Linked DNA regions of Homo sapiens: region 1 is linked to region 2. The links come from fine-mapping of genetic effects on gene expression. Tissue or cell type: whole blood. Region 2 holds a variant in brackets; the other region holds the start of a gene. All regions are shown on one strand. Distances are from middle to middle.

What was found. PIP is the estimated chance that this variant, and not a neighbour inherited with it, causes the effect.
Region 1: PHLDA3 starts here. The variant in region 2 is the best candidate, but not a certain one, in a credible set for the expression of PHLDA3 in whole blood (TOPMed, PIP 0.55).

What each region holds. Positions count from the first base shown.
Region 1 is chr1:201,467,921-201,470,677 of GRCh38, forward strand. It overlaps PHLDA3 (pleckstrin homology like domain family A member 3), which reads right to left and starts at 1,268. Exons shown (of 2, transcript NM_012396.5): 1 at 421-1,268. The coding sequence starts at 866. The coding sequence ends at 483. RefSeq lists enhancers at 448-507, 578-717, 939-1,653, 1,168-1,287 and silencers at 788-1,097, 1,308-1,537.
Region 2 is chr1:201,444,354-201,447,110 of GRCh38, forward strand. No RefSeq gene overlaps it. Among named protein-coding and RNA genes, the nearest start is that of PHLDA3, 23 kb to the right of the region's middle. The variant C/T (reference allele first, on the strand shown) is at 1,341.

The sequences.
Region 1 (2,757 bases), 24 kb after region 2:
CCCTCGGTTGTCCTCAGCTGCCAGAAAGCCGAAGTCCAGGAGCCCTGCTCTGCGTGGAAAGCAGAGGCCCACAGCCTGGGGCAATGTGCAGGCCAACCTCCCTCTACTTCCTTCCACCTGAGTCAGGGCTGAACCAACTTGAAAGAAGGCTCATCTCACCCAGGTATCCCCCTCCCAGGGCTTCCATCTTCCTCTCACACACCTGGATCACATTCTGGACCGGCCAACCTGGTGCCTCAGGGGAAAGTCCGGATCTGCTGGGTTGGCCACTGGCCCAAGCCTCCCATGCCCTCAGTTGGCCCCAGGAACCTCCCCCCTAAGATGTCCGGCTCTGAAGTAGAATGCTAGTCCTCATTCTCTCTGTAGGGGAAAGAGAAGGGAGGGAAGGAGAGAAGAGGGCCCAGTCCCCCGGGGGCTTACCTGCCTTGACCTCAGCACTGAGGTGGTGGGTAGCATGAAGGAAAGATGGTGCGCCCGGTGGTTTAGGACACGAGGGTCCCGGTCCCGAGGCTCTGCCGGGCCCGCACTGTCTGGATGGCCTGCTGGTTCTTGAACTTGACCAGGCCTAGGGTGATCTGGGCGTTCCAGCCGGGATCTTCCAGGGGGCAGCGGAAGTCGATCTCGCCGCCCCCTTCGGTCACCAGCGTGAAGTAGATGTGGCGCCCGGTGCTCTCCACGCACTCCACGGCCTTGATGCGGGCGAAGCTGAGCTCCTTGGGCCGGCCGCCCGTGCCCTTGGCCTCGAAGAGCTGCAGCCCGCGTTCGGTGAGGACGCAGCGCTTCCGCTTCCACAGCTGCAGCAGCCCGCCGCTGCGCTTCTCCAGCACGCCCTCCTTGAGCACGGTAGCCGTCGCCGCCGCCGTCATGGGCGCCCCGAGGTTCGCGGAAAGCTCCAGGCTGCGGCGGGCGCGGCGCCCCTCTCGGCCCCGCAGCGCAGGATTCTGGCGCCCCGGGCTGGCAGGCCGTGCGCGCTGCCCACCTGCGCCCTGACTGCTCCGCGCACCCACACCGCGGCCCTCAGCACCCGGCTGCCGGTGAGGTGGTGTCGGTGCCCCCAGCGCGCTCCGCGCCCACCGCCCCGCTTCAGCCGGCACCCGCTCCTCCGCTCTACCCCAGCTGGCCCAGCCCGACCCGCCTCTGCCAGATGCCTCCGCGCCTCCCTAGGCCGTGAGCCCCACCGCCCGCCCGTTCTCTTGCTCCCCTGGGCTCTGTCTGCGCGCTGGGCGGCAGCTCGCGGGATGTGCCCTTACATGTTCCGCCGCTCGCCTCCTGCGCCGCCCGCCCGCAGCGCATTCCTACCCTGGCCGGCCCTCCCCTCCGCGCCGCGCACCAGCTCCGGCAGGGCCCCGGGGGCGGGGCCGCAGCGGGGGCTCAGTCACTCACTGGAGGCGCAGGGCGCGGGGCGGGGAGGGCCGGGACTGAGAGGGGGCTGCTTACTCAACAGCCCAAGCCTTCTGGCTGCCGTCTGCCGCTTCTCGGAACCGCAGCTCCCCCAGGCCTTGAATGAAGGGGGAGATGGCGGGGAAGGGAGGGGGAAGGCGCATCTCCTCGATTGGAGAGCGCGCTGCTAGCAAGGGGGTGGGCTTGCTTGGCGAACGCGCAGTGGCACCAGTTGCATGTTAGGCGTCAGACAGCTGCTGGTTACTTGGCACGCCATGGGGCCCCCAGCCTCTGCATCAAGCCCATGTTGGGTTCCTCCTCCATCGCCCGATTTCTCTGTGCAGCACCCAAGAGAGGCTGTCCATCGCTGCCTCTGCTTGGACAGTTCACCTGCTCCTACTCCTACCCCCATGCATTGCGCGGGGAGGCCTGTAGAGAGTAGCCAGTGCCAACAAAGGAGAGCTGAGGCTTGAGGTCATTCATGCCCTCCTCGTAGTGGGGGAGGAGGGACCCCCTCCGTGACCTGGGGATGCCACTGTCTGCAGTCCTCTCCACCGCACACTTGCAGGCGCCGACGCTGGACCGATGGCACAGCCAGTCCCAGGTGTAAGCGCAGCTCCAACCTTGCTCCTTCCGCTCCGCAGATTCTGTCCTCCCTCGGCCTTCCCCAAGAATGGACTTCTCCCGCATACAGAGCTGGAGGGGAACGCAGAGGGAGAGGTCTCTTTCTGTTCTGGCTAGAATATTGTGTAAACACAAGAGCTTTGCAGAGTTGAGTTCAAACCTCTTCTCCCTTGTTGGCTGTGTCCTGCCCACCTGGGGCAACTTTACTGACCTCCGTCAATTTCCTCATCTGTCGAATAGGAGGATTAATTTATTCTCATCTCATGGGGTTGTCCTGATGAATAAGTTGGATAACATTTGTGAAAGACCCAAGACAGGACCTGACAACTCTTGAGTCTCAAGAAATGTTCTTCCTCCCCTCTCCCCACTCTTATTCCCTTTAGAGAATGATGGGGGCCCTGAGATTAAGCCAGGCACTGGAAGAGGGCTCTCTTAGGTCCTCATTCTGTCCCCATCTTGATCAGTTCCTCCAGGCCCACAGTTTCTTAAAGGTCTATTCATCAACATGTTAATAATAGATTCTTACGGGAGTAATGATATATAATAATGACAGTAATAAGACCTCTTTGTACTTACACCCTGTGTTGCCATCCTCCTGCCCAAAGAGCAGAGCCTAACAGATACAGGGAAGGTCCTGTTGTGGGGATAGGAGTGCGCTCCTCTGCAGTCCCAAAGTTAGGAGATGAGAGAAGGGAACTGTCAGTGTCTCATCCATAACTCTTTATACACACACACACACACACACACACACAC
Region 2 (2,757 bases):
CATGCCCAGCTAAGTTTTGTATTTTTAGCAGAGATGGGGTTTCACCATGTTGCCCAGGCTGGTCTTGAACTCCTGACCTTAGGTGATCCACCCACCTCAGCCTCCCAAAGTGCTGGGATTACAGATGTGAGCCACCCCACCCAGCCTCCCTCTAAAGTTCATATGTTGAAATCCTCACCTGCAATGTGATGGTGTTAGGAGGTGGGGCCTTTGGGAGGTGATGAGGTCATGAAGGTAGAGCCCTCATGAATGGAATTAGTGCCCTTTTGAGAAGAAACATGAGACAGATTATTTTTCTCTTGATTATGTAAGGATACAATAAGAAGACAGCCATCTGCAAACAAGGAAGAGAACCCGCACCAGACAAAGAATCTGCCAGCACCTTGAGCTTAGACTTCCCAGCCTCCTTCACAGTTTTCCAGAACTATGAGAAATAAATTGTTGTTTAAGCCACCAGGACTATGTTGTTCTGTTCTATCAGCCCCAGCTGACTAAGATTGCAGAGAAAGGCAGAGGGAGCTATGCAAGCAAAAGTTTGAAGGGGAGAAAGCAGAGGCATGGTGAGATCCTGCAACCTCTCTTTGTGGTCAGACCATAGGAGGCTGGTAGGAAGGGAGGCAAGAGAGGAAGGCTGACGTCATCGGAAAGTCTTTGAATCCCAGCTAAGTGACGTGGACCCACCCTACAGGCAAAGGCATCCTCTGATTGATTTTAGGGGATGCAGGATAATCAAACCTGAGTTTTAGGAAGGTAACTGTTGATAGCGGGGCAGGGACTGCAGGCAGAAAGGGAGGTAGGAGGAGTCAGGGTGATTCAAGTAAGCAGCAGTGATCCCTGGCCCAGGGTAGAGGCAGAGGCGTATTTATCAGATATTTATCACCCACCTGATCTCAGTCAATTTCCTTGGGGATCTCAATGCACTCATTCACACTAAAGTGTAAGTAACAAGACCTGGCTTTTACCTCCCCTGGAGCATTTATGTTTTACCAGGACAGCGTCTGGTGGTGGAAAGACAGTGGAATTTGAAGCTTTCTGACTGTTGTGCCACTAATATGGTTTGGATGTGTGTCTCTGCTCAAATCTCATGTGAAATTGTAATCTCCAGTGTTAGAGGTGGGGCCTGGTGGGAGGTGGTTGGATCATGTGGGTGGCTTTCTCATGAATGGTTTAGCACCATCTCCTTGGTGCTATCCTCGTGATAGTGAGTGAGTGATGTGAGTGAGTTATCACAAGATCTGGTTAATTAAAAGTGTGTAGGCTGGGCACGGTGGCTCACGCCTGTAATCCCAGCACGTTGGGAGACCAAGGCCGGTGGATCATTTGAGGTCAGGAGTTCAAGA[C/T]CAGCCTGGCCAAGATAGTGAAACCCCATCTCTACTAAAAGTACAAAAATTAGCCAGGCATGGTAGCATATCCCTGTATTCCCAGCTGCTCGGGAGGCTGAGGCAGGAGAATTGCTTGAGCCTGAGAGGCAGAGGTTGCGGTGAGCTGAGATTGTGCCACTGCACTCCAATCTGGGCAACAGAGTGAGACCCTGTCTCCAAAAAAAAAATTTTTAAGTGTGTAGCACCTCCCCTCTCTCTCTCTTCCTCCTGCTCCCACCATGCAGGACGCCTGTTCCCGCTTTGCCTTCTGCCATGAGTAAAAGCTCCCTGAGGCCTCCCCAGAAGCAGATGCTGCCATGCTTCCTGTACAGCCTGTGGAACCATGAGCCAATTAAACCTCTTTTCTTTACAAATTACCCAGTCTCAGGTATTTCTTTATAGCAGTGTGAGGACGGGACTAATACAGCTATCAACAAACCAGGTGACCTTGGTCGGATTATTTATCCTCTCTGAACTTCAGACTCATCTATAAATGGGAACAATGACACTACCATCGCAATTGTTGTGAAGGCCAAATAAGATAATGTCAATGAAGAGAGCCCTGTGAATCATCAAGAGAGACGTTGGCCTTTTAATGAAACTGAATGAATAAAGTATTCATGGTAGAAGTTTCAGGCATGAGCAGCGAAGATGAGGCTGGTGATGTGTCTGTGTGTACTCCTGGAGGGATCCCACCTTCAGGCAGCTGACCCCCACATGAAGCTTAGGGGCTTCAGGAGAATCAACACGAGAGCTTATACACCAGGGAACAGTATTAACTGCAATTGCTACAATGCCACACTTGACATATTCAAGCCTTGGAGAAAAACTGTAAGTACGGTAGATTCTTGTTATTTGGGTAGTTACATTCTATAAAGTCTCTGGGAACCCAGAATTAGCAAGTACTGACCAATTGCTCCTAGTGGAAATACAGGATTATGTTCTTGCAAGCCTGTGATCACAATGTTTTTTATCAATTTTTAAAATTAGTTTGTGACTGGGCATCGTGGCTCACGCCTGTAAGTAATCCCAGCACTTTGGGAGGCCAAGGCAGGCAGATCACTTAAGGCCAGGAGTTCGAGACCAGCCTGGCCAACATAGCAAAACCCTGTCTCTACTAAAAAATACAAAAATTAGCCGGGTGTGGCACATGCCTGTAATCTCAGCTACTTGGGAGGTTAAGGCACGAGAATCTATTGAACCCGGGAGGTGGAGGTTGCAGTGAGCTGAGATCACACCACTGCACTTCAGCCTGGGCGACAGAGAAGACTCTGTCTCAGATAGATAAATAAATAAATAAATAAATACATAAAATCAATGTATAACCTTGTATTATATGTGTTTCTGTTTAAGGACACCTTATTTAGGCATTGTGGCACTTGTCTGTAATCCCAGC